4 linked regions of the Homo sapiens genome follow. The protein of the gene in region 4 interacts with the protein of the main gene of each other region in a pairwise test. Each region holds a gene or a part of one and is shown on either strand. Other genes may lie near its edges. The genes, in order: TMEM14A, LEPROTL1, TMBIM6 and SLC7A1.

What was found.
Region 1: the proteins of SLC7A1 (region 4) and TMEM14A interact in binary tests that used the Homo sapiens proteins (3 or more experiments, as listed by UniProt).
Region 2: the proteins of SLC7A1 (region 4) and LEPROTL1 interact in binary tests that used the Homo sapiens proteins (3 or more experiments, as listed by UniProt).
Region 3: the proteins of SLC7A1 (region 4) and TMBIM6 interact in binary tests that used the Homo sapiens proteins (3 or more experiments, as listed by UniProt).

The regions. Positions count from the first base shown.
Region 1 is NC_000006.12:52,666,515-52,674,134, reverse strand, and holds the start of TMEM14A (transmembrane protein 14A), read right to left. Parts: upstream 3,023-7,620; 5' UTR 2,890-3,022; intron 1-2,889. UniProt on the Homo sapiens protein: Inhibits apoptosis via negative regulation of the mitochondrial outer membrane permeabilization involved in apoptotic signaling pathway.
Region 2 is NC_000008.11:30,090,937-30,098,408, reverse strand, and holds the start of LEPROTL1 (leptin receptor overlapping transcript-like 1), read right to left. Parts: upstream 3,002-7,472; 5' UTR 2,897-3,001; coding exon 2,881-2,896; intron 1-2,880. UniProt on the Homo sapiens protein: Negatively regulates growth hormone (GH) receptor cell surface expression in liver. May play a role in liver resistance to GH during periods of reduced nutrient availability.
Region 3 is NC_000012.12:49,744,542-49,751,565, reverse strand, and holds part of TMBIM6 (bax inhibitor 1), read right to left. Parts: exon of another isoform or gene 7,024-7,024; intron 959-7,023; exon of another isoform or gene 861-958; intron 1-860. UniProt on the Homo sapiens protein: Endoplasmic reticulum (ER)-resident protein that confers cellular protection as an anti-apoptotic protein by limiting multiple stress-inducing pathways surrounding the endoplasmic reticulum and mitochondria.
Region 4 is NC_000013.11:29,592,665-29,599,513, forward strand, and holds the start of SLC7A1 (high affinity cationic amino acid transporter 1), read right to left. Parts: upstream 3,025-6,849; 5' UTR 2,752-3,024; exon of another isoform or gene 2,480-2,751; intron 1-2,479. UniProt on the Homo sapiens protein: High-affinity, low capacity permease involved in the transport of the cationic amino acids (arginine, lysine and ornithine) in non-hepatic tissues.

The sequences.
Region 1 (7,620 bases), on a different chromosome or scaffold from region 4:
TACCACCACTTACTAGCTGTGGAACCTCAATAACTCAGTTTCTCCATCTTTAAAATAGGGATAACAAAAATATCTACCTTATAGGATTGTTCTGAGAATTAAATGATTTAATACTGTAAAGCACTTAGAACAGTGCCTGCACATACTGAGCACTCAACAAATATTAGCTGCTCCAATGATTACTCTTCTCATTCACCCTTACACCTATTTTAAGCTTGACATGTGTAAGGCTATTACTATTTCAGCACACTGAGAAAACTGAGGTAGGGTGAATTTGTAATTTAGTTAATGAATCATACCATAGTATTATAACATATATTTGTAGTCAATTCGACTTAACAGCTATTTATTTAGCATTTTCTTTAGGCAAGGCAGCAGGAAGCAATGGTAAGTGCTAAGACATGGCCTTGGTCCTCCAGGAACTATAGTACAACACAGCTGTAGGAGGCAGATGTGTGAATGAGCCCTAAGAGGAGAGGTGTGGGTACCATAACAAGGAGTGGCACCCAGCAAGGACTGGGAGCCTAAGGATGCCCAGATCAAACAGGGTCCCAGCTGGGACCTTGGAGAGATGTTGTGCCAAACCCCTATTAACCTCAATAAGGAAGGCAACAGGTTCAAGAGGCCAAAAGAGACCCATTAGGGGCTTACAAACAGAGGAGGGAGTCCAGTGGTGGTGAGCTGGGCAGGAAAACAACCGCTTGCAAACATCATGCAATTTATGCAGCATTTTCACTTAACACCCTCCCCTCAATGACCTCTACCTGGCAACTTGATTTAACTCAAAATTCAAGGCCTCAATTCCCCGTATGGCCCCTGTTCTATGGGACAGGTGGGGCAGGGGCTCAGATGTTCTTCATAGACAAGAAATAAATCTCTGGGTTGGGCAGGCCTGGGTTCCCTAGTTCAGAAAACACATTCAGGTTCATCTGCCACACAGGGTCATTCTAAGGGTATGCTTTAATTATTGCTGTCAGGTGCATTTACCCTACAGGGGAGCATGAATAAGTCAAGTGAAGAGGGTGCAGGGAAGGGTGTTCCTGGCAGAAGGGAGCGCATGTGCAAGGCCCTAATGGCACAAGAAAGCATGTTCTCAAAATGAAAAGTGCAAGGGGCTTGTGAAAAGAGAGGGTGCTGGTGAGAAAGACAGGGCTGTACACCCACATAAGCCCCGTAAAGGGAGTCTGGTTCCGTCCTAAGGGCAATGAAGGATCACTGAAGGGAGCCTCACAATCAGATTTAAATTCCAGCAAGCACTTCCCAGTTGCAGTAGTGAAGATGGGTTGTGAAGTGAGGCAGGGAGATAAATCGGGAAGCTGTTGCAGTAAAGTAAGCAAGAGCTTAGTTGATAACGGTAGGCTTATCTAGAGAAATGGCAATGAGAATGGAGAGAAGGTGGACAGATTTCAGAAGTTCAGGAGGTAGAATCAGAATTGAATTTGAGGCGGGAAGGGAAAGTCAGGGGTGAATCAGAGATGACTCACCCCTAGGTATCTGGCTTAGACCATTAGGAGAAGTAGGGAGTCGGGGAGCCTCATGCTATTCCCTGAGACAGAGAACATGGGAACAGCAGCAGGTGTGTGGCGGTGGGAAGAGGGAGGTGGCTAGGAATGATGGGACCTGTTTAGAATGTATTCAGTCTGAGACGCCCAACACACAGTCCGGAAAACACCCTTACATACAGATCTGAAGCTTATGAGAGTTCTTTCATTATCAGGTGTAACTTCTAGACCTAATTTTCTCCTAAAGCTAAGTAGCTGTTGTGAAAGATTAATTCCACTCCATCCTGAGCCCCCCAGCTCTTCCTGCGATCTTCTCTTGAGGACCCATACCCTTTTACTTGGTTGGGATTCTCTCAACTCTCAGCCAGCCAAGCTCCTTGAGGGCAAACCAAGGTTCAGTTTATCTTTGTCCTCCTCACAGCACCAAGAACCCTGCCATGCACAAGGCAGGTACTTAAAATACTTGTTAAATGAATAAATGAGTGAGTGAACCAAAGGAACAGCTTCTGCCTGAAGACATTCTGTAACTGACCTACCCAATACAGCTTTATTGCCAGGAAACAGGTAGCCCCTTAATCTCCTTAGCGAACTGACTGTTGTTCTAAAGAGGCAAAATAAATCTACTCCCAATGCTTGCAAGAAGATTCTGTTCTCACAGAGAATATTCAGACAAAAGAATCACCTATTCCATGACGGAGCCATGTGGCCAGGCCAGAAGCACACATTAAAGCCAGAGGCTGTGTTAACATGGAAGGGATAAGGTGGGAGAGGATGTGCACAGCACATCACACGCTCTCATCACAAATGTGATGCTCAAGCCTTGGAAGGACTAAAACGCATCTTGGATGCAATGCAGCAAAACGATTTACCATACCAGGTACAAAACAAGGTGACAGGGGACAGCCTCGCTGCCCGCCCCAAATCCTCCAAAATTCGGAGAATTAAGAGATTTTCGGTGAACTGTTACATAAAAAGCATTTTCACATGCTAAAGATATAACAATTACCTACCCTTGAGCTCTTGGAGGGCACAAAAGGCACATTTTCGAGTGGGGTCTGGGTGGTGCTGAGAAGGTTAAAATCCTGCCAAGCATTTTGCAATGGTCCATGAGCCCACCCCACCACCCCAGATCCAGGAAGGTAGGAGGCAGGATAGGTGGGATATTTAGGGATACCAGAAGGCAGAAACTCGGGAGGAGGAGAAAAATGATACCGCGGAGGTAAGACCGATGCCCTGCAAAATCCCCTCAAGGTCCTCTGCATCATCGTTTGCTGTACAGGTTTGGCGCGGGGGAGGGGATGCCCGCTAAGCAACGCCCCTTATATTTCTGCAGTTTTGTAAGAAAATTCAGAGCAGGAAGGTCTCCATTGCGGGATGCACAGCTCACCTGCAGCCCCGAGCCTTCACTGCAGCTGAAAAGACAGAAGTCTGGGGCCAGCTGCCGCCAAGCGCGGTACCTGGAGTCCGGAAGCAGTCTCCGCACCAGCGCTGTCCCACTCGGCGCCCAGCCGTCTCGCGCTGAGCAAAGGCCGCTCCCTCCTGGAAACGCCCTCCCTGCCGCGCGCATGCGCTGTGTCCCTTCTCGCCTTGCAGGACTCCACCCGGTCCATGCCCTCCGGCTGAATCCGGGCGGCCTGTAGGCCAGGCAGCCAGGAGGCCCTGTGCTGCAACATCCCGGCGGCAGCCGGACCCGTTGCTCCGTCTATCCTGCCTTCGGCCCTGTCCTGGAGCCAGGGCTGGGGTTTGCTGCCTCCCGCCTGACGGAGCAGGACTGGCAGGAAGCGTGTTTGCAAGAAGCCAAAATTACAGAAGGCGAAGATTTTTAAATTAACTCCATTCATCTTTCAAGGGACATTTCCAGAACCTCCAAAAGGCAACCCGAGGTCTTCTACACACCCTCCAGCAGACTGTCCCCACTGTCAGTGGAGGGAGCTAAGGTTCAGTGAGGTCAAGTGACTTAGTTGTCCCAGGTCAAAATCCAAGTTTGCCTGGTGTCAAAGCCCAAGCACCCTTCATTACACTATGGGATCATCTAGATGTGGTTGGGAGACGAGGATCCTAGTTTTAAACTTCAGGCCCAGGATTTGCTGGGTTTAGATATCTACTGGGAAAGGTATAGAATTCCAGAGTTGGAAAGCACTTAAAACCTTGCCTAATGCAAGGCAATCCGCTCAATCCCAGGAACGAAACTTAAACTGACCTTATTTTTTTTTTAAATACAGGATCTCAGTCGGTCGCCCAGGCTGGAGTGCAGTGGCACCATCCCGTCTCACTGCAACCTCTGCCTCCTGCCTCCTGGGTTCAAGCGATTCTCCAGCCTCAACCTCCCAAGTAGCTGGGATTACAGGTGTGTGCCACCTCACCCGACTATTTTTTTTTTGTAGAGACGGGGTTTCACTGTGTTGCCCAGGATGGTCTTGAATTCCTGAGCTCAAAGCAATCCTCCCGCCTCTGCCTCCCAAAGTGCTGGGATTACAGTTTAAATTGACTTTAAATTATGCCTCCCTGTAGCAACTTATCATCTCAATCTTCTGCCTTCTTGATTGAATACAGAACTCCGACCCTCTTCCTTATGTAACAGCCCTTTGGAGATTTGAAGAAGGTTGTCATAGTGAAGTAGCTCTAGAGGTTCTGTGTCACTGAGAATTACAGCGGAATTCCTCAGAATAAAAAAGGAAACTCAAAAATTAAATCTTGTGAAGTTTGTTTGCTACATCTATTCTTTGTGCATAAAAGTGCTTCAGGGAAGTAATATAACTACATCTAACTTATGAAAGTCTAAGTTGGTCCTGGGGAATTAATAAAATTCCTGAAGATTCACAGAAGAGTTGATGGCAAGGCACTGGAATGTGGCGTGGAGAAAGTGATAGCCTGAAATTTGGTTCTGAGTTCTCTCAGCCCTCCTTTCCATCCCCTTCTATGCCCATCCTTACCCCAGCCTCCTCACCTTCTCTCCTCACACTCTCAGAACACTTACCCTATTTGGAATAAAACTAAAATCCTCTTGGAATACTTCATTATCTTCATCTGATGTGACCTGGGTAAATAACTCCCCTCTGGACCTCAGTGCCTGGATTTAAGATATGGACAAGACTAGATGCTCTGAGATCCCTTACACCCTATCACCAACATACTCGAAGCTGGAAACAGCCTCATGATATTCCTACTCAAGGCGTATCACCTAAAACTAAAGAAAAACTCTTTGAATATTATGGGAATTCCATACCCTTGAATATGTGGGAACAGGATGGTTCTTAGGCAAAGGGACCACTGCCCTCTCAACTCATAGGCACCAGCTGCTGCCTTCTCCAGCTAATGGAAAGGCTGCAGCCCAAGGTAAGGATGCAGGAAAGCCTATTCCCCTCAACTGTTTTGTAAAGCTTTCTATGCATGATCCACAGCAGAGACTCTTAACTTTCAATGTGTCACCAACCTCTTTGGCAGTCTGGAGAAATGCACAAAATAAAATACACAGGATTGCAAAGGAAGCCAATTTTATTGAAATGCAATTTCATTGAAATCAAATTCTTAAACATTTAAATCTGTCACATAATAGATGTGCTTCTTTATTAACATATTAAAGATTACAAGACCTAGGGGGTGGATCTAATTATTACCATAATTTCAGAGTGGTGCTGTACATAAATATTTTAAGATATCTGTAACGTGGATATCTGTGATTCCTAGTGATGACAGAGACACAGGTACTAATACTGCTGTGGTTTGTTGCCTATTTTCCTGATGGAAATAAATAAAAACTTTTTTCCATCGAAGTTTTCAGATTTCCTGATTTCTATCCTCTGGCCCCTTTAGATTCACAGATTCCAATTTAAGAACTCCCAGTCTATAATAATGCAAGTTTTCGTAAGTTGTACATAGATGGAATCAGAGAAATGGAAGTAAGGTGAAGAGCCTCACTGACTGGCTGGCTGCTCAGGCAGGGCCTCACGGGATGGTTACACCCTGTGGATCCTGAGCCTGCTCCTCATTTTCAAATGTTCAGAAACTCAGTTTGTCTCAGTTCTTCTGGGGGCACCCTGGCTTTTGAGAGACAGATTCATAAAAATCAGAGTCACAAGGGACTTACTGATTTTTTTAAGGCCCACTTCAGATTCTTGATTTTTTTCTCCTTTCAGATTTCAAACAATGTCAAAGGACATTATTCTTGTCCTTTGAAAATATGATCTTATGGCAGGCCAACATTTTAGCATCGTTTCTATGGCTCACTTACAATGACAGCCATCTTGCAGGCACACGTCTAAAGAGGTTACCTTCCATTTCTGTGAAGTCAAAAATCTCCATAAGTGCTTTTGCACTTTTTGAGGAAATTGAAAAGTAACCAAAAGCTTTCATTATGAAAGTCTCAATGTCACATTTAAGCAACTCACATCCCTTTTTAGCAGTGTTGTATATAAGATGTACAAGGCATTGAATGGATAAGATCTTTTCATTTTCTTTGGTAAGAAGTTTGTAGACTGAATGCAATTTGCCAAAATTTTACATCTATACTGTCTGACGAATACACAGATAGATGAGCTAAGTCTAGTTTGTATTTAGACAAAATATCAACAATATTTTATGATTTCAGCAGTTTCATTAAAATCCTCACAGAAATGAAGAAGATGATTTGAAACTCCTGTTTTCAAGTCAAAGTACCTAACAGCTAGAGGGAACATATTTTTGCTGCCATGATTTGGCATATTACTTAAAATTGATGTACTGTAGAAACCAGGATTGTTGGTGAGATATGACAGAAATTGGCTTTATACTGTAAGGAGCCAACACATCTGTTATCAAAAAATTTCCCTTCTTCTTTGTCCAGAGGATATTTTAGCTGCAATTCTTGAATCAGGAAATGAAACTTTACTCAGTTTCATAGAGCAATCAAGGGAACGCTATGACAATGCAGGCTTATTTGCCTGGTATGCCCATGCTAATTCAGCAGCTGCTATTTTTGACTGAGCATTGGTGTCTTTTGGGGAAACAAAGGTATTTTTGATTGGTTTAGAAGCATTCACCTGTCCCATCTTACTTGTGAGATTTGCCCTCCATATGTGCTTGCACATCCCCTTCTCCACCATGTCCAATCTCAAATTTTTTTCTGTATATTATGTAGTATGCTCTGTTTTGGTTATTTACCTTCCTAGTTCAGTAGTATGTGTCCTTCCATCCATCATCAAAATTACATAGTCGTTTAGCCTTCTTCTTCAGTGATGGGGTCATGGTTGCATTGGTATTATAACCATTCTCATTATCTGACCTCTTAGAAAACATGGTCACAATATTCACAATGTTAAAAAATTAAACTAGCACTATCTTGTTACAAAGCACACCAATTAATCCACAGGCAAAGTCGAAGATGAACTATTAATAATCATTATATACACTTAAGCCACATCACTTTGAATGATGCAACGATGGATGGATGACCATTCTGAACTACAAATTATGGTTGCCAGTATCAGTGGTCAAATGGGTGACAACAAGTAAAGATGAATAATCTGTGCCGTATCCATTTGATAGACAATGTTGCTTTCAGACCCTCTAAAACTTACGGGTTTTGTGCATTTCCTCCAACCTTCCACACTTTGTTGCTAAAACCAGGATTATTTACATTCCAGGGAAGGGTCTCCCAGGACACAATGCTCTCAATGCTAAAATGGGATGGTTGGTTACCCTATTGGGTTGCCATTAACCAAAGGGCTACCTCTCCAGAGGCAGGAGGGGAGGCACATGGAGGTAGAGACTCCTCACCTTGCTTCCACTGATGGTGTTAAATTTCTCCAGAATATTTCTCACAGGTTCCTCTTCTTTGGGGGGTGACGAAAACAAGACATTGTCTTTTGTTAGACTTTGGATCCACTGAAAGTTCAATGGCCTCCATCTGGAAACACAGGCAAAGCTCAGGGCCAATGCCTTCCCCTGGCTCAGGCCCTAAAGGGAACTCAGAAAAGGCGGCCCTCCAAAGGCAAGAAAGGAGGTGAGAGCAGCTCCACTGACAACTCCACCAGCCAAGGAAAACAGAAAAAAGCATCCACTGGTGGCTGGTGGGGAGCATAAACCATATCCTGGGGAGAAATTCACCTCCCCAAACTCACCAAAGTACTCCCTTACCTTC
Region 2 (7,472 bases), on a different chromosome or scaffold from region 4:
ATTTATACTAACTCATTTTCGTGACACAATTGTTAGATGGGAATTCAGAGTAAAACACATTTTTATTTTAAAGAATCATCTATGCTCACTTATATATATTTTTCAATAGGTAATTCATATACCCAGAACAAAAATTAAGTGAAAAGGAACTTTCTCTTATCAAAAGTAATCACTATTACCTATATACCTTGTGACACAAAATTTTCTAAGTTTATCTTCCCACACTGAAACAAATGGGAATTAGGAGAAAGAGTTGCATACAAGCAAGAATTGCCCTTTGACAGGAGGGAGGAAACAACAAAAAAAATTTAAACCAGGCAGAAAAATCTCAAAAAGCATGTTCACGGTAATCTCCGCAAGAGGCAAGCCACCTTAGGACCATGAGGGCCTCTGAAGGTGGCTGTTCTGTGACAGAGAACAGTCATTCAAGTTTTTATCAAAAAAGAAGGCCTAAATTCTTTGATTACACTCTTACAAAGTTAATGAAAAATGATTCCTTAAAAAAAAAAAAAAACCAAGGGACTAAAATGAGATAAGGCTCAGGTATCAAAAAACAATTTTAAAAACATAAACCAAGATTGTCTTATTGTAAGTGCTATGAATATGAATACTGGAATAACATTTGTTTGGGGGAATCAAGATACCTTGAGATAATACTTCTACTCCATTAAATACTAAATATGTGTGTGTGTGTGTGTGTGTGTGTGTGTATATATATATATATTTTTTTTTTTTTTGAGACAGAGTCTCACTCTGTTGCCCAGGCTGGAGTGCAGTGGCGTAATCTTGGCTCACTGCAACCTCTGCCTCCCGGGTTCAAGCAATTCCCTGCCTCAGCCTCCTGAGTAGCTGGGATTACAGGTGCCTGCCACCATGCCCAGCTAATTTTTTTGTATTTTTAGTAGAGATGGGGTTTCACCATCTTGGACAGGTTGGTCTTGAACTCCTGACCTCATGATCCATCCGTCTCGGCCTCCCAAAGTGCTGGGATTACAGGTGTGAGCCACCGCGCCAGGATTAAATACTAAATTTTTTTTAAATATTCATAACACAGTTTGATGTGACATCTCATCTTCCAGTCATACCGAATAAGGTAGCCAATTAGAGGTTAAATAAATTGCTTAAAAGTGTTCTCAAAACTTGCAGTTTCTTCAATCTTATGAAATTGGCAACTAGGAAGATTTATATATACACTTCATCATTTGTATATAAGCTGTTTCTTAAATGACACATCAACAAGGCAAGAATTCATACAGTAATTGAGTGATGCAACATTTGGAAGACAAAGCTTAGATAAGTCTGGGTTCTACTCCCAAAGCCTCTAGGCTAGGCATGGAGCAGCCCAATTATCTAGCAAAACTCTCTAGAGACAAGATGCTGATTCTGTGATTACAAAGAAATTAGAGTAGAAGGAGGGACCACTTCTCTAACCTGGGAGTTACCAGAAAATCCAATATATCAAAAAGTAATAGACAAATGGCTCAAGCAATGCCTAATGGTCTCTAATTACAGCAACACTCCTTCCTAATATAAAGATATTAGGCCAAGAGAAAGAAACATACTGACTCATAACAACCAGAAAATCCTGCTGAAATCAAAAGTGCAGTTCACCTGAGGCACCTTCATCAGTTTAATGCAGTATTTCCCTAGGTCTGGAGAAGTAAATTACAAAGCTATTTTCTTAAGAGACCCCCGCATTATTGACACTGAAGAAACAGGGAAGAACAGGGAAACGGGCAACATCCTAAAAACCACAGCAATTCACAATAACTGCCTTTCACATAAGGGTTTAGAGTCTATCATAGTTCAAAAGGAGATTACAAAGTATCCCAGTTGCTTAAATGACAAGGTTTTATATGGGAAATGAAATGTTTTCAGACATTGAAAATAAACAAGAAACAGTAAGACTGTGACCCTGAAAAAAAACTCGATTAAGTTTTCCTTAGAGAAGAAAAAATACAAAGAAAACCACTGCTCCCAAAGTTACCTGCTTCCTGCCTGACTGCCCTTCTACAGAGCGGCAGGTCAAGAAATCAATGTAATTAGTTAAGCAGTAGCTGAAAACTTTGCTTCTCATCACACTGACAACAAAACTACCTAACAGGTGGAACAAATGCAACATTCCTTTTTTTAAAAGAAAATACATGAATAAGCCAGTAGTTTTTCATTAAGTTGTACCAGTATTTTATCTTCTTAAAAAAAAAAAAGGAAAAAAAGAAAAATTTTGAAATTTGAAAAAGCCTCAGGGTGCAACTGCGGAGAGGGAAGAGAGCCAGGAGCACTTTGGGGTCGCCTACAGGATCAACTCTAGGGTCCAGACACCGCAGATGAAAATGCACCCGTTTCGGGAGCCTGTAAAGCCTCGGGCGCGGGCGGCCGGGGTGGACGTGGGGTCGAGGTTTCGGGCAGACCCGTGCAGCGCCCGCAGACCGCACTTGTGCCTTTCGGTGGGAAATGACTGGTTTTCCATAGCTGGCATCTCTAGCAGCCTCAGCCTTCTCAATCCCACGCTCTGCCTGCCTCTCTCTCGGATGCAAACTCCTGCAAAACGTGTGTGGCCGTCCAAGTCGCGACGGGACTCCTCACTGACCGCCAACCACTTCATATTTTGTCCGGGGGGCGATGGGTGGGAGAGAGGCTGCCGAAATCGGCAGAAAGTGGGGGCTGCGGGGCGAAGCCGGGGTCGCAACCGTCCGTTGCCCGAGGGCGCCGCGCCCACCTCCGGGCCAAGCGCAGGGCCGGGGCGGGGGTCGCTTCCCCGGCGCAGGGACCCCACGCGCGCGCGCGAGCCCGGAGGGGAAGTGCGGGGGCCGCGTGGGACCCCCGGCCCATCTTCCCCCGCCGGCCCCAGCCCTCCCGCGTCCTGCAACCCAGGCCCACCTTTGATGCCTGCCATGGCGGTGACGTCGCTCCTGGCTCCACGACCCGAGGCGGCGGCGGCAGCAGCGGCAGCCGGGAGACCCAAGACGCGCTACGGCGGCCAGACAACACCCGGAAGTGCGCGACGCAGCACTTCCGCCGGCGACTCGGGCTCGCGCGGGGGCGCGGGGGACGCGCCGGGCTGGGCTGTGGGGTCGACCCCCTGCCTCTCTTCTCCGCGGGTGTGCAGATCGCCGCCGGCCGAGGCTTGCCGCCGCCGCCCCGACTGGGGGAATGAGCAGGCGCCAGGTCTTGAATTCCTGTCAGGGCCGGTCTGGGGGCTCCCTGCTGAAGCCCCTGTCCCTGATCCCGCAACCTCCCGCGTGCGTTGGGAAGGGGTCGCGGGTAGCGGCCGTCCTTTGGATGCACGTGTGATGGCTTTTGGCTTAATTTCACATTGTTTTGTTTGTTTTTTGAGACAGGGTCTCTTTCGCCCAGGCTGGAGTGTGATCACGGCTACTGCAGCCTCGATCTCCAGGGCTCAAGTGATTCTCTCACGTCGGCCTCGCAGTAACTGGGACCACAGACATGAGCCACCATGCCTGGCTTTTTTTTGTTTTGTTTTGTTTTGTTTTTTGTAGAGACAGGGCGGGGTGTGAGACTCTCATCTTGTTGCCCAAGCTGGTCTCCTGAGCTCAAGGATCTGCCCTCCTCGGCCTCCCAAAGCGCTGGGATTACAGCTTGATACCCTACCTTGTTTTAACCTGATTGACTCGCTCTTAGCTGAGAGAGCGGGACAGACTCCATTTTGGTTTCTTCGCTTGCAGCACCTTGTCCCCCTCCCTTAAGGACATAACTGGTGCAGACTGACACCAAGCACATCCAGGAATGTGCTTACTGATAAGATACTGAGGCAAGCTGTACCAGCAGCTCCTGGGAACGCGCTCGGTTGATGGTACCCAAAGCCCCTGCGTTTATCTCTTTGTGATAATTTAAGCCCCATGCACCTGGAACTGTTTATTTTCCTGTAACTGTTTCTATAACCATTTATCTTTTAACTCTTTGCCTGTTCTGCTTCTGTAAAAATTGCTTCAGCTAGACTACCCCTTCCCTATTTAGACCAAGGTATAAAAAGAAATCTAGCCCCTTCTTCAGGGCCGAGAGAATTTTGAGCTGTAGTCGTCTCTCGGTCGCCGGCAATAAAGGACTCCTGAATTAGTCTCAAAGTGTGGTGTTTCTCTATAACTCGCTCGGTTACGACAACAGGTGTGAGCCACTGCGCACATTATTTTACTGCGCCTTTTCCTCTCTCCCTCCATCCCTCCATCCCCAGTCCTATAATTAAGGTTAGTTGGGTGGTCTGCACTTGGCTCCTTGGTTTCCTATACAGGACTAGGGTTCTGGTGAGGACCCACCTCCAGAGATAGGAGCAGCAGGGCTCAGTAAAGGGTGGATTTAATAGAAATCCAGTCCCTTGGGTGGCTGTCTTTTTGGTAGTAACAAGGCAAGGAAAAAAAAGTGAAAGCCCAGGTTCAACACCTTTATTTACACATCCTACAATTATTTATAGAACATTTACTATGTGTTAGGCACAGGGTTAGACGCTGAGATGTGCAAAACCAGGTACTGTTTGCAGACTGGTGAGGAAGACAGACACACAAAAAATGTAAAATTGCAATAATGATAATTGCTAGTAAAGGGGATCAGAATATGTCACTCTAAAATATGCCACTTTGAAGTCTGGTGTGGTGACTCAGGCATGTGATCCCAGCACATTGGGAGGCTAAGACAGGAGGATCGCTTTGGCCCAGGAGTTGAAGACCAGCCCTGGCAACATAGTGAGACTCCATCTCTACAAAAACGAAAAAAAAATTAGCCAGGCTTGGTGTGTGCCTGTAGTTCCAGCTACTTGGGAGGCTGAAGTAGGAGGATTGCTTGAGCCTAGGAGGTCGAGGCTGCAGTGAGCTCTGATTGTGCCACTGCCTGGGCAACAAAGCAAGACTCTGTCTCCAAACAAACAAATAAATGTCAGGCCTCTGAGCCCAAGCTAAGCCATCATATCCCCTGTGACCTGCACGTACACATCCAGATGGCCGGTTCCTGCCTTAACTGATGACATTACCTTGTGAAATTCCTTCTCCTGGCTCATGCTGGCTCAAAAGCTTCCTCACTGAGCACCTGGTGACCCCAGCCCCTGCCTGCCAGAGAACAACCCCCTTTGACTGTAATTTTACTTTACCTACCCAAATCCTATAAAATGGCCCCACCCCTATCTCCCTTCGCTGACTCTCTTTTCGGACTCAGCCCACCTGCACCCAGGGGAAATAACCAGCCTTGTTGCTCACACAAAGCCTGTTTGATGGTCTCTTCACACGGACACGAGTGAAAATAAGGCTAAGGATTGTTTTGAGCTGAAAGCAAATAAGAAGCAACAGGCATAGGAGGAGCTCTCTGCTCTCTCCTTTTCTACCCAAAGGCCGTGCTTAAGTTCCCTTTGTAAAGATAACATAAAGTTCCACTTTTTGTTTTGTTTTGTTTTTCTTTTGAAACGGAGTCTCGCTCTGTGGCCAGGCTGGAGTGCAGTGGTATGATCTCGGCTGACTGCAACTTCCGCTTCCTGGGTTCAAGCGATTCTCTTGCCTCAGCCTCCCAAGTAGCTGAGACTACAGGCACGCGCCACTACGCCCAGCTAACTTTCAGTCTTGCTCTATCGCCCAGGCTGGAGTGCAGTGGTGTGATCTCAGCCCACTGCAACCTCTGCCTCTTGGTTAAAGTGATTTTCCTGCCTCAGCCTCCCAAGTAGCTGGGATTACAGTCATGAGCCACAATGCCTGGCTAATTTTTGTATTTTTAGGTAGAGACAGGGTTTCACCATGTTGGCCAGGCTGGTCTTGAACTCCTGGCTTCAAGTGATCGGCCCACCTGGGCCTCCCAGAGTGCTGAAATTACAGGTGTGAGCCACTGCGCCTGGCCCCCAAAAAATGTGTAAACAAATTTTTCTACTTATAAATATTTACATTTCCCAGACCAGGGAGAGGATGCAACTCCTATGCCCCAGTAAACAGCATTTATTGGAGTCTGTGAAAACATTACTAAAATAGCCCTTATCTTTCATTAGTTTTCCCCTATATATTTACCTTCTTAAAATCTACTGCCCCTAGAAGTCCAAAACCTTTCCTTTGTCTACTTTTCCACAATGCATCACCCTTTGTTAAAATGATACATGCTCCCAGGCCTAATTACTTTTTGAGTTTTCACTTCTTTTCTGTGAAGCCTCCTTGTGCATGCAAAATAAACCTTTTTTTTTTTCCTGGTAATCTGTACTTTGTTAGTTTAATTCACAGTTCTCAGCTTCTGAACCTAGGAGGGTAAAGAAAGTTTTTATCCTTTCCTACACTAGGAAAGATGGGTAAATAGTTCTCTGAAAACTTTTGATTGCGATCTGCCAAGGAAAATTTCCCCCAAGGAGAGACAACACAGTGATGAATAAATGTGTTAATAGAGAACGGAAAAGCCATCGCAGGTGGCGGGGTGTGTTGTTTGTGTGTGTGTGTTTGCGTGTGTTTGTGTGTGTGCGTGTTTGTGTTTGTGTGTGCCTGCATGTGTGTGTGCATGCATGTGTTTGTGCGTGTTTGTGTGTATGTGTTTGTGTACGTGTTTGCGTGTGCATGGGTATTTGTGTGTGCGTGTGTGTGCGTCCTTGTGCGTGTTTGGGTGTTGTGTGTGTGCGTTTGTCTGTGCGTGCGTTTGTGTGCGTGTCTGTGTATGCGTTTGTGCGTGCATGTGTGTTTGTGTGCGTGCGTGTCTGTGTTGTGGGCGTGTTTGTGTGTGCCTGCATGTGTTTGCGTGTTTGTGCACGTTTGCGTGTGTATGCATGTTTGTGTGTGTGCGTGTGTTTGTGCATGTGTGTTTGTGTGTGTTTTGTGTGTTGTGTTTTTGTGTGTTTGTGTGTTTGCGTGCGCGCATGTATGTATGTGTGGTGGGGAGTTAGGAGCTTTGGCAGCAAATGGAGCAAGGAACTTGCTTGGTCCCTTGGAGAAAAGAGAGGTGGCCAATGGGGTTGGTCAAGGTTGGGGTGGGGCAGCATGCTTATATAGTAGGGACGTACACAAGCAGTTTTGGGTTTTCTCTCTGAGCAATAAAAATCTTTTGAAGGTTTTAAAAGGAAGTAGGTGGGGGTGAGCTACGTACGATTTGAATTTTTAACTTTTTTTCAGTCATCAGACTAACATAAAGTGGCATGTAAGACTGTGGAGTGAATGTTTAGAAGAGATATTTCCAATATGCTTTAAAATGAGAGCAAATGGGAAGCTTGAGGCATTACCCACTTCGCTTCTCTCTACTATTTCTAGAGTTGAATTACAATTTAAACAACAACAACAACAACAACAAACAGGTCACTTCTTGAGTCTTAATGCACCAAATGAGTCTATGGGTGTTTTGTAGGAGAGTAGAATTTTTTTCTGTTCAAGTTAGTGCAGAAAGATCTACCATCTCTTTCCTGTATCATGAAAAAAGTTTCCATTTAAGGATGTGGTAACAAAACCACAAGGCACACTTGAACATATGCCATGGAAATACACGCTGTTTACACGGAATCTGTGAGCCACCAG
Region 3 (7,024 bases), on a different chromosome or scaffold from region 4:
ACCTCCATAAAAAAGGAATTTATGCAGAAAGGAGGATTTTTTGGGGGGTATTTTTTTGACAGTTTCAGAACCTTTCCTACAGAAAGGTTAGAACAGTACAAAGAATTCCTGTACAACCTTCACCCAGATTTCCTAAATGCTAATATTTCACATTTGCTTCATCTTCTTTCTATATAGCAATATATAGACAGATGTAAAAATATTTTTTCCCTAACCATACAGACACAGTGCTCCTAAACACTTCAGTGTGTATATCCTGAAAGCAATGATCAAAATCAGGATATTAATACTAATGCAATACTATTTCTAATCTGCAGACCTTATTCAGATTTTTGCCAACTGTCCCAATGTCAAAAAGGGCATTTTTAAACTGAACTATATCCAGGTTAGATCATATCAACACCATAAAGTCAAGTTCTTAAGTTTTGCTCCCTCCCCTATTTCACATGCAATCCTAAGTAAACGTGTTCAATCTACAGTACTAAAGATCCAGTCAAGAACTTTCATCTCTTCTAAATATAAATCCTCCAAACTCCTATCAGGGCCATAATGCCCATCCATTTTAAATCTACCAGAAAAGGAGGGGCAGGGAGGAAGGGATTCAAACATAAAGTTGTGTGAAACGCCACCTACTGAATGAAGCACTCTAATCAGCACCCAGCCCAACACTCAGAACAATTCATCTAGGTAATAATAAAAGTTACAGTCCCCAAACAAATTTCCTAAGGAATCCTGGGCCAGTGGAAAGATATAAACATCATCTGCTTCCTGAGGCTCTCTCCCACAAATGAAACAATCACAATGGCTGGCTTGCTTTCTCTGGTTTCTTCTTTCCTTCTCTCATTAACATCACTACTCACCTCAGAACTTTTGTTAATTCTGTTCTTAAGGACAGATACAGTGAGAAGCTGCAGAACCTACTAAGGTTGTTGCTCTCTCCTCTGAGTCACACGGATCTGGGCCCTCTTGATCTAGATGGTGCAATTATTGCAGGTTGTTACAAGGCCAACCACAGCCTTCCATAACCAAGATGAATATGACTATGTCCTCTAGAGAGCACACTTACAGCATGGCAGAATTCAGCACCTGGAAAGTGTCTTTGTTTAAGGTTTCCCATTAACACCCCTAATGACATCCCTAGACAGCACTTACAATAATACTGAAGCAACTTTCAGAGCCAAGTTTCTCAGTATTCACAACAGCAATGCTAAAGAACCTCTTGCTTCCAATTACAAGAATTAAAGAAAGGTAAGGGATGGAGCGGGGTGGATCCTCAAACGCCCAGGGGATTCTAAGAAAGAGGCAATGCTCATGTAACCAGACCCTGCTTGGCGGAATCTGTTCGAGGGGAGAATGGCAGAAACTCCCCTTTCTCAGATACTTCTCTGACGTTTCCCAGGGGGTACTGACTGCCTCTTTCTGGTTCTCTCTTAACAACTGTTGATGGAAAAACCAAAACCATCAAAGGCTGTGTGGGTTGGGGCAGGGGGATGAGATGTCAAACGGCAATTTCACTTTGATTTAATAGAAGCTTGTGGTTTGAAATCATTAAAAAATAACTAAAACTTCTGTTTTTCAATATCAGTATTTCAAAATTTAAAACAAAACATGTAACTACCAAATATTATAGACGCAAAAGGGCACAGCAATTTTATTAGCTTTATGGAGAAAAAAAAGAAACCTGGTAAAGCAGATGGTCCCTGACTTACCAGGGTTGACCTATCACTGGGAGAAATTGATACTCATTCGGTACACTCCTTGATTTGCGATGGCTTACATCTGGATACACCCATTGTAAATTAAAAATATCGTTGACTCAAAAATGACTTACAGGTTGGGCACAGTGGCTCACGCCTGTAATCCCAGTACTTTGGGAGGCCGAGGCAGGTGGATCACTTTGACGTCAGGAGTTCGAGACCAGTCTGGCCAACACGGCGAAACCCTGTCTCTACAAAAAATACAAAAATTATCTGGGCATAGAGGCACGCCCCTGTAGTCCCAGCTACTTGGGAGGCTGAGGCAGGAGAATCACTTGAATCCAGGAGGTGGAGGTTGCAGTAAGCCGAGATCACACCACTGTACTCCAGCTTGGGCAACACAGCGAGACTCCGTTTCAAAAAAAAACAAAAATGACTTACAAAAAGAAAAGGACTTACATTTTCAACTTACGGTATTTTCAACTTATGATGGGGTTTTCCAGATGCAGCCCCGTCTTGAGGAGCATCTGTATACATTTAATGTATATGACACAATGTACAGATGACAATTTCAGAAATGTTAAAATGTGAGAGGGAATACATAGGTCTTAGAATCAAAGAAATATGATAGTTTGCTCTAGAGCTGTTCCAAATAGACAAGAATATACAGATAAGTAATGAGATCAAACTGTTCTGACAAGTTTTGCCAGATAAAATAAACTTACCAAGTTTCAATCTTAGCTTCAACTAGCGAAGCTCAGAAAAGATACCTACATTTCAATGGCCGATATGCAAACTCAGCCAAACAAGATTAAGTTGCACTTAACTCAAAAATAGCAGCTCTCATATCAAGTATTTTCCATTCTAGGAGCAATCAGCTCTTAAGAGCTTGAAGTATTATATTCAGTACCATTAACCAAGTAACTCGCTAACATTCCAGAGGAGCCCACAGTTAAATGAAAATCTTTGTTTTAAAAAAACACATTAAAATGTTATAGTTTACCACAATAAAGAAAAAAAGTACATTACAAGCTGCTAAAAAATTCAATACAGCAGTCCTTTCACACCTCTAAGCCTATTACTTACTAATTCAATTCTAAAATAAAGAGGAGGGGTTATTTACATAGAATACAATGTGGATAGTGCCTCCTGGAGTTGTGGAAAATCTGCCTATACTGCGTTTGTAACTGAAAAGTAAATGTTCAGGTGTTAATCATAACCAAATTCCTCTAATTTCATTCAGAGCCTCCTGTTATGCCTTCATCCCAGGAGAGGAAAACCTGTCAGAAGCTGTCAACATGTCATGCACATACTGCTAAAGTTTTGCTGAAGTGTCATCATTCTGTGGTATCCCTGACCAGCCTCCTCTGCCAGAGCCATGCAAAAACAAAAAGCTAAGAGCTTAATACATAGCTCTCCCAAGAAAAAACTCAAGTAAACACAATTGTTTGAGTTAGATATTCCTGTGGTCTGCTTTTGCTTGGGAAGACAGGGACAGCAGGGGCTGGTAGGAGGAGACAGGCATTCTTAGCAGTGGACATCTAGGTCATGTTAAATGCCTTGTTTTGTTCTAGGTATCTCCCTTACCCTTGTCCTAAAATGAAAGACTATTATCAAGGGTCCAGCCTTAAATTAAAAACAAAACAAAACAAAACAAAAAAAAAACAGGCTGGGTGCGGTGGCTCACGCCTGTAATCCCAGCACTTTGGGAGGCAAAGGCAAGCAGATCATGAGGTCAGGAGTTGGAGACCAGCCTGGCCAACATGGTGAAACCCTGTCTCTACTAAAAATACAAAAATTAGCTGGGCGTGATGGCGGGCACCTATAGTCCCAGCTACTCAGGAGGCTGAGGCAGGAGAATCGCTTGAGCCAGGGAAGCGGAGGTTGCAGTGAACTGAGATCACGCCATTGCCCTCCACCATGGGTGACAGTGCGAGACTACGTGTAAAAAAAATTTAAAAATTAAAAAAAACACAACCATTCTCTTCAGTCCTATTCCCACACACCTAGGAGCTACAGTGAACATGAAACATGCTGAAGTAGCCAAAAGCTATGCAAAACAAAACTATCGTGGATTTAGTATGCGTTCTATGCAATGCTGGAGCCAAGACAGACTTTGCCTCAGTGTGTACAGCAACATTAAAACAGCAAGTCAAAGAAACACTGTTCGCACATTTAATTAAATATCAGTTTATGTTTTATTATGAAGACAATAAAGTCTCAAGGTTATGTTCACTTCCAAAAAACAAAAAAGGAAAAAGGCCATGCACAATGTCTCACACCTGTGAGCCCAGCACTTTGGGAAGCCAAGGTGGGAGGGTCGCTTGAGCCCAGGAGTTCCAGACCAACCTGGGCAACACAGCAAAACCTCATCTCTGCAAACAATTAAAAAATTAGCTGGGTGTGGTGGTGTGCGCCTGTTGTCCCAACTACTTGGGAGGCTGAGGAAGGAGAATTGCTTGAGCCCAGGAATTTCAGGCTGCAGTGAGCCATCATCATGTTGCTTCACTCCAGCCTGGTAACAGAGCAAAAATGTGTCACTGCACCCCAGCCTGGGCAACACAGCAAAACCGTTTTATAAAATTAAAACAAAAAAATTAGTTTGTCAATTACATGGTTCTTTCTTCCTGTTGTATAAATTCAACCATCCTGAACCTTGTTCCCACATATCTAGAAGGGACCAAATTGATACTTAGAAGAAAAATCCCATATAGTTTAAAAGAGGGGAAAGGGCTGGGCACGGTGGCTCATGCCTGTAATCCCAGCACTTTGGGATGCCTAAGTGGGTGGATCACCTGAGGTCACGAGATCGAGACCAACCTGGCCAACATGGTGACACCCAGTCTCTAGTAAAAAAATACAAAAATCAGCCAGATGTGGTGGTGGGCGCCTGTAATCCCAGCTACTCAGGAGGCTAGGGAAGGAAAATCGTTTGAACCCAGGAGGCAGAGTTTGCAGTGAGCCGAGATTGCGCTACTGCACTCCAGCCTGGGTGACAGAGCCAGACTCTGTCTCAAAAAAACAAAAACAAAAAAAGGAGGGGGAAGAACTGTTAGTAATTTGTCAGTAGTTTTTTTTCTTCTTCTTCTTCTTCTTCTGTGTTTTTGGCCAAGAAAGCTTTCCATTCATTAGTTTTTACTACTGAGTAATGTTCATACACTGTATAACCATGTCCCCTGCATAGTGGTTAAGACTGCCTGCTACTTCTGAATCCTAGTTATTTCCTTAGCAGTGGGACATGCAGCAAGCTGCTGGCACTTAACCTCACTGTACTTCAGTTTCACCTACCATGTGTAAAATACTAGTACATAACAATCCTTATTTCCTAAGGTTGCAGATTAGGTGAGATAATACAAATAAAGTTCTTAAAATAGCTCTTTGTACATAGAATGAGTTCAATACATGGTAACCATTGTTATTACTGGTGTACTAACATTGTTATTACTGGTGTACTCATTACTACAATATCTTCAGTAGATTATTCTCTTTTAAAAGTCTAGTTTTAGCCTGTAATCCCAGCACTTTGGGAGGCTGAGGCAGGCGGATCACTTGAGGTCAGGAGTTCGAGACCAGCCCAGCCAACACAATGAAACCCCATCTCTACTAAAAATACAAAAAATTAGCCAGGCGTGGTGGTGGGCGCCTATAATCCCAGCTACTTGGGAGGCTGAGGCAGGAGAATGGCTTGAACCCAGGAGGCGGAGGTTGCAGTGAGCCGAGATTGCACCACTGCACTCCAGCCTGGGCGACAGAGTGAGACTCTGTCTCAAAAAAGAAAAAAAAAAAAAGAGAGAAAAGAAAATTATAAACTGAAACATAAAGGCACTTGAAAAATCTCATTACTGGTAAAAGTATAGATGCTCGATTTACAATGAAGTTACATCCCAATAATCCCATTGTAAACTGAAAGTATCGTAATTTATGCACTTACTACATATAACCTACCAAACATTATAGCTTAAGCCTAGCCTACCTTACCTTAAATGTGCCCAGAACGCTTACATTAGTCTGAAGTTGGGCAAAACTATCTAACGCAAAGCCTACTTTATAATAAAGTGTTAAATATCTCATGTGAAAATATCATACCAGATATCCCTAGTCTGGGAAAAGATGGAAATTCTAAATGTGCTGGGTTTTTTTTTTTGAGACAGAGTCTCGCTCTGTTGCCCAGGCTGGAGTGCAGTGGCACGATCTCAGCTCACTGCAACCTCTGCCTCCTGGGTTCAAGTGATTATCATGCCTCAGCCTCCCAAGTAGCTGGGATTACAGGTGTGTGCCACCATGCCCAGCTAATTTTTGTATTTTAAGTAGATACAGGGTTTTGCCATGTTGGCCAGGCTGGTCTCAAACTCCTGACCTCAAGTGATCTGCCCACCTCGGCCTCCCAAAGTGCTGGGATTACAGGCATGAGCCACCATGCCTGGCCTGAAGTACAGTTTCTAGCAAACAGGTAGCACTTTTGCATCATTATAAAGTAAAAAATCATTAAGTCCAATCATCATAAATTGGGGCCCGTCTGTACTTTTGTTTAAATGGCATACCTTTCTTCTAGCACATTTATACTATCTCTCTTGTCCCACAGGGCCATGGACATTTTGAGACAGCCTAATAGCCACTAAGTGATAATCTGATATGGTAAAGGATTTGATGAAGTAAATGCGCAAAAGCTTGATGCTTTCCCTGCCACTCCCAGGAGGTAGGTCAGTTCAGTTTCGGAACCATCCAAGGAATTGTTTCATTCAACTAGGACCAAGCTTTGATCTTCCCAGGTGGACACCCTAGATGTCCCCGCCTCTCCCTTAACTTGGACCCAAATCCCTGGATTAGCTAATACTGAATCCATCTCCTCCAGGGGGCTGCCTCAAAACCAAACCAGTAACTGGAGATGAAATGCCTACTGCCTTCAGTAAATTATTTTTTGTACCAAACGTTGACACTACTTCATCTCCCTCTCTATAACGTTTGACAGATACTGAATCCTAAGAAGGCCCCAAAATCCTAAATACATAATCTTCTTCCAGTATAAACCAGTAATCCCTCCCTAATAACACCATATTTAGCCCAAATGGGGAGCACACATAAATTAAGACAAACAGCATACCCACTTCACCCTCACTGGTGAAGCTCCTTTTTCACGTGTTTTGGATTCCAGTTAATTGTGCAGAAACTTCTCACCCTGAGGGCAGAGCTTGCATCTGGTTCAGCTCAGCTATCCCCAAGATTTAAGCACTACAAAGTCTCTAGAGCAAATTTAGACCCTATTATCAGATCAAGAGTGCTGTAACCTCAAATCAACATTCCCCAGCTGGCTCAGAGTGGAACCTACC
Region 4 (6,849 bases):
AACAGAAAGGGAGGCCACTAAAGTTTATCACAAGGCAGATAATCTGCCACAAATGAAGCTACTACTCTGTTCCCTCACGGGAAGAGAGGTCTAAACCCTGGGGTGGATAGCAGGTTGGCCAGGGATCTGATGCCTCCCCACCCGAGGCCTGGGAAACCTGAGGGTAGGCAGATGTCCTGAAGATCCAGGAATACCCCAGGACCTTTGAACCCCATGTATGGAGGGTCTCCATCCCACAGGACAAGTCCACCACCAGGCGGCCCACTAGAAGGCGGCAGGGGAGCAAAGGGAGGCCATGGGCAGCAAGGAGACAGAGGCTGAAGAGACCCCCCAGATTTGGCGAGAGGAGCCAGTAAAGCTAGGTGAAGGGGAAGGAGGCCAGCAGCCTGGACGGGTGGCTGCAACACACAGGCAGGCACCTGAGAGGGGCCCCAAGAAGATACATCTTCCAGCCCTGACCCTGGGGATAAGAGTTCTAAAAAGGTCAGTTGTGACTTTCAAAAAGTCCCTCTTCCATCCAACACGTTCTTTGCTCAGCCTTCCCATCTCATTAATACAGCAACTCCGATGTGCTTGGAGTCATATTTGACCTTTCTCGTCCTTCCATGAATCCACCGGCCAATCCTATTGGATCTGCCTTTAAAATCTATCCAGGTCTGCAGGGGCCAACTATACAGAAAAACACCACATCCTATCGGAAGGTCTTGCTTGGAGTGAGGACCAAGAGGCAGGTGGAGTGATAGGCATCTCTGAAGATGCCTCTGGAAGAGATAACTCCGAGACTCAAGTATCTCCAAGGTTAGAGGGAAACAATATTTTTCTCCATAACAAGGATGCACTTATTCACATTTCAAATTTGTCCCTAGGATTAATAGCAATCCCTCCAAATACATGGTTGATAATGAGAAAGGATTAATTTAATTGGACATAATTCTGAGCCCTCCAACATAATTATCTATTTGTATGGACTTTGGTTAAAATAAACTACAGACCAGAATAATCAATCAACACGTATTTAATTCCATCAAAGAATGAGTTCTTCTACCAAATAGAAAATTGTAACTCCCTGAAGTCAACAGTCTTGTCTTTCAAGCCTTTCTTTTTTTTTTTCACCTAAAGCAAGTAATCATATGTACAGGAGCACGTGGCTCTAGGATCCAGACCCAGACAAGGGAGTACATTTCTGATCTACTTACTAAGCCCTTTCCTCTTTACTCAAAACTCCTTTGACATCCTTTGAATTTTACCTTTATAATAATTAAACATGATCGTAATATGCTAAACCTATTTTTAAAACCATTTTAATCTATTGTTGACCTTTCCCCTAAGTTTCTATTCTGTTCGTGTGACTTAAATAAGACCTTTTGTTTTAATAACAGGAGGGTGTGTTCATATAAAAATCATGGTAATTTCCACTGAGATCAACTAAAAATACCAGAGGAATAAATGTATCATGGTTTCCTATTATCTGAACCAAACATAAAGGGCAAGAAATGTTAGGAAAAATCCCAGATAAATTATAATTCGAATTAAATACAATTAGGGCATTCGGCCAGAGGCCGACATACACAATTCTACTAGTCGAATGTAAGTAAGATAAAAGGCACATTCTTTAGGGAGATACACCTGGGATTGAAATCTCAACCATCTGGTAACTATGTCTGGACTAAAACCCAACACATGAGGGCATGGCGGTGATGACGTGAGTATTGGGAAATGTAGGTTATTTATTTATTTTTTTCCTGAAGGCACATGTCTGACTATCCTAGTCACACAAGTCAAACACAACTGCTGTCTGGTTCCCCCATCCCCTGGAAAGGGTCAGGAGCTGAACCAGCAGGCTGTTGTAGTACTACAGTGCAGCTGCCGCTCTGTGTACGCGCAGGTTTTAGAATGACTCTGACCTGCCCATGCCTGGGAAGTTTTCTACTACGCAGAAAGGAACACCCTGAGAATACGGTGTCTTGCTAAAGGCGGAAGAACTTCCTCTCATTCCAAACCATGTGGAGGGCTTGAGGAACCCGGCCTTTCCAGGCCACACTGGGTCACAAGGAAGCCCACCTAGGGGAGACTTCCTCAAAGCAATCTTGGGGACCCAGACGAGAGGTGCAGGCGGCGCGTCCCGGGTTCTAGGGACAAGCGGAGAGCCAGGCGCCCTAGGTCAGGGCGGCCACCGGGCGGGGATGGCAGCAGAGTCCCTGGGCCGGCCACCTGCCGCGGGACCACCCTCCGGGCGGCCGGGCAGAGTCCCCACCCACGGCTGATGACACATCCCCGGACCTCGTGGCGGGGCGGGGTGCTCTGCACCGCGCCATGTAAGGGAAGGTCTCCTCGCCGCCGGCGGGCTCCGTGTGCCTCCCAGTCTGGCCCCCGTGCCCGCCGCCCGCCTACGCACCCCGACCACCCCGTGCGTAGCGGCGCGCGGGTCCCCGGACAGGCGCGCGGAGCGGGCATCGCCAGATCGCCCACGCTTACTCACTCGGTGTTGCATCATGCACCACGCCGCGGTTTCAGGGAGCCAAAATGGACTCCGTGGAGGCGACAGTCGCATGGGCACCAGCCCCGCTCGCCCACTCCGGGGCCCGCCCGGCCCTGGTCCTGGCCCTTCCCAGAGGATGGCAGCGTTCCCGGCGCGGGGGCCCTCGCCACTCCCGCGCCGCCCTGCCGCGGCCCCACGCGGCGCCAGGGCCCCCTCCGTGATGACCCGGGCCCAAGGAGCTGCCCCCTGCGTTGGCGGGGCCGGGCACTCACCAAGCCGGCGGCGGCGGGGCTCCGGCAGGATCGCGAACAGACAGACTGTCGGACGCGCTCAAGGACCAACGGACGCTCGGCCGGCGAGACCGGGCGGGGCGGGGCGGGGCGGGGGCGCGGCGCGCGGGGAGAGGAGTGGAGGCTGCGGTTAGCGGGAGCCCGCGGCCGCGTGCGCGCCTGCCAGGTAGTTGACCCGCTGCTCACACCTGCCTGCGCGGACTGAATGGGCGCCGAGGGCTGGCGGGTTCCGGCGCCAGGTTTCATCAGCAGTGCGCCCGGCCCCCGCCCCTCGCGCTCCGCGCCCCGCGCCCCACGCCCGCCCCCGGACCAGGCAGCCCCGGCCCGCTCGGCCGCGTCACCGCCGGGCACCAATGGGAGCGCGGCGCGGCGGCGGCTGCCAGCCCAGAGGCTGCGGCCGGGGACCGACGCGCCCTTGGTGGGCGGGGCGGCTGAGTCTTCGCGCGCCCAGCGCCCCAACCTGGGGTTCCCGCGGCGGGCGGGCGGGCTGCGCCTCCGCTCGCCTTCTCAGTAGCTCCGTAGGCGTGTGGCCGTTTCTCCGCCAATCTGAGCGCACCGCGCCACAGCATCCTGTGGTCCCCTGCAGATCCCACAGCGCCCTGGCCAGAACTAGTGCTGCAGGTCCGGCCGTGCCAACCCCCTCCCGGCGGGCCCCAGGGAGCTCACACGGAACTCGAGACCAGTTTTCCTTCTCCAAAATAAAAGATTTGGTATGCACTTAAAAGGTTTAAACTGTTTTCTTTTCATTTTAGAGACAGGGTGTTACTCTATTGCCCAGGCTGGAGCGCAGTTCACCTTAACCTCGAAATCCTGGCCTCAAGCGATCCTCCCGCCTGGGCCTCCCAAAGCGCCCTAGGATTACAGTCCTGAAACACTGCACCGGCCTAAAAATTATTATAAATCTTCATGTCTTTGTTATTGGATTATTTTATTACTATTCCTTTGCCCTTGCTAATACCTTATCCTTGCCAGTTGTCAGAAGAGCCCCAAAGCTTGAATCTACCTGTGCCCCCTTGGCAGTGGCAAATGCACAAACGGCTAGTCAGAACGGCTCACTTTTGCAGTTACCCCCCAGGAAGTGGCAGAAGCTTCAGTCCTGAATCACACCGTGCTCACCTTTTAAGCTCCCTCCTTGTCTCCTTTTGTACCAAAAGCCAAGCGAGAATCATAATCTTTAAAGATCCAGTGATCTGGGACTTGGGATAGGTAAACAGGGCATAAATTAATAATGCCATCCTTCTTCTATCTTATAGGAAAACAGAAAAACAGTGGACGGTGTCCGTGGTCTTTGAATCCTTTCTACAGGTCCTTCTCAAATATCAGCTGCTGAACTATTCCCTTGGAATTAGACTAGCAATTTATAAAGTACATAACTGCATGGTGCTAGCTTCAGAAAAAGTGTTCTGTTGTTGTTGCTGTTGTCATTTGTTTGTTTTTTAGAGACAGGGGTCTCACTCTGTCACCCAGGCTGGAATGCAGCGGTACAATCATAGCTCACTGGAACTTCAAATTCCCAGGCTCAAGCCATCCTCCTGCCTCAGCCTCCCAAGCAGATGGAACTACAGGCTTGTGTCATCACGCCTAGTTAATATTTTTTCTACATATAGACACGGGTTTTTGATATGTTGCATAGGCTGGCCTCAAATACCAGCTGTCTAGCGATCATTTTGCCTCAACCTCCCCTAGCATCGGGACTACAGGGATGAGCCAGAAAAAGTCCCCAGAAAAAGTTTTAATGAACACATGCAGATGGCTTAGCAGTTGTAAAATGTGTTTTTGTCTTTGTTTTAGAGAGTGGGTCTCACTCTGTCACCAAGTTGGAGTGCAGTGGCAACATCATAGCTCACTGCAGCCTTGAACTCCTAGGCTCAAGCGATCGCCTCACTTTAGCTTCCCCAGTAGCTGGAAATATAGGCGAGCACCATCCTGCCCAGCTTTGTAATGTGCTTTGAACAGTGCTTGACATCATAGTAAGCCACCATATATGCTTTGTTTTAAAGCAACAAATCTGGCCTGTCACGGTGGCTCACGCCTGTAATCCAGCACTTTGGGAGGGCAAGGCAGGCAGATCATGAGGTCAGCAGATTGACACCATCCTGGCCAACATGGTGAAACCCCGTCTCTACTGAAAATACAAAAATGATCTGGGCGTGGTAGCGCACGCCTGTAGTCCCAACTACTCGGGAGGCTGAGGCAGGAGAATCACTTGAACCCAGGAGGCGGCGGTTGCAGTGAGCCAAGATCGCACCACTGCGCCCCAGCCTGGTGACAGAGCGAGACTCCGTCTCAAAAAAATAATAATAAAAATCAATAAAAAATAAATAAAACAATGTATCTTAGTTCAATTGCACAGTGGTGAAATGATGCCTTCCATTCACAGAAGATCTCCCAGATCCCACGCAGCCTACTCTGTCTGCTGAGGCCACAGTAAGCATGTCCCCTTCTCACAGAGAGAAGCCTGGTAGGATTAAAGACCACCTGCTTTGCCCTTGGCACCAGATCAGGATTTGAATCTGAACTCTACCAGTTCATTTGCTGTGAGAGCTTCTGCAAACTATTTCACTCCTGTTTGGAGCTTGTAAATCTTATATTCTTAAGAAAAAAATCTATCCCTTGGTGTTTGAAATATGACTGTGGAATTTTCTCTTTCTGCCTCTCTTTCTTTCTTTTTCTCTTTGCTGACTTCTGGCAGTAAAATAGAATTTCATAAATTGTAGAGATGCTCTCCTTGGGCAACACAGAGCGCCAACATGAGTTAATGTTTGTAAATTCTGAGAGCAAGTGCTCCAGGCCCTGATGGGAGTATGGTGACATTTAACCCAGGAGATTTTTAGCACTGTGCTCCGTTTAGCAATCCCACTCAGCAAGGTCCTGTCTTCAAAAAGACAATAAGACAAGCCCCATGAGCAAGTGACTTCTCAGCAAAAAGGATTCAGTATGAACCAGGGAAAAAATAGTTACGCACAAGATCTCAGCAAAACATTAGAGGATGCTGATAAAGAGGGCTACATGTTTTAAGCAAAGCCAGTTTTTAGGCAGGTCAAGACTCACATTACAGGTTCAGAGAAACCGTGAGTGACAGGCAGCCTTGATTACAATCAAAGAGCAGCTGCCCAAGATTCCAGCAACCATTAAGAAAGGGAGATGCTACAATTTAGGCCCTAGAGAGCAACATCTAAGGTTAAGGTTGACATACTAAGTCTCTTTCTAGCACCATTAGGCACCTTGGGGGCAAGGAAAGTGCACAGAATCAAAGCCAGGCAGATGTGGGTTTCAATTCTAACCAGCTGCTGGCCTGGGGAGAGGGGCCCTGCTCACTCTGTGCCTCAGTTTCCTCATTTTCGAAATAAGAATTTTACTACCTGCTGGATACATACGAACTTCATGGTAAGGATGAAAAATGTGTATAAAGATGAACAGAATATAGAGCTCAGAAATAGACTTAGTTTGTTTTGTATTGCTATAATGGAATACTCGAGTCTGGGTAATTTATAAAGAAAAAATGGTTTATTTGGCTCACAATTCTAATGGCTGGAAAGTTCAAGATTGGACATCTGCATGTGGAGAGGGCTTCAGGCTGCTTCCACTCATGGCAAAAGATGAAAGGGAGTGTGCGTGTGTGCAGAGATCACATGACAAGAGTATAAGCAAGAGGGAGAGGAGAGAAGGGCCCGGTTCCTTTAAATAACCAGCTCCAGAGTCATCTAATAGAGTGAAAATTCATCTCCCCGTCCCACCTACCCCCAGGAAGGACATTTCATGAAGGATCCACACCCGTGAACCAAATACCTCCCATTAGGTTCCACCTTCAACATTGGGGATCAAATTTCAACATGAGGTCTGGAGGGCACAAACATCGAAACCCAAACAGTAGCCTAGACCCACACAAATAGCTGATCCAGAGTGGCTAAGACAAGTCAATGGAGACAAGATAGTCTCCTCAACAAATGGTCCTGGAACAACTGGACCTGGACCGCCACATGCAAAAAATAAATCTAGACACAGACTTTAACATCTTACACAGCAATTAACTCAAAACAGATCATAGGCCTAAATGTAAAACACAAACCTATAAAATGC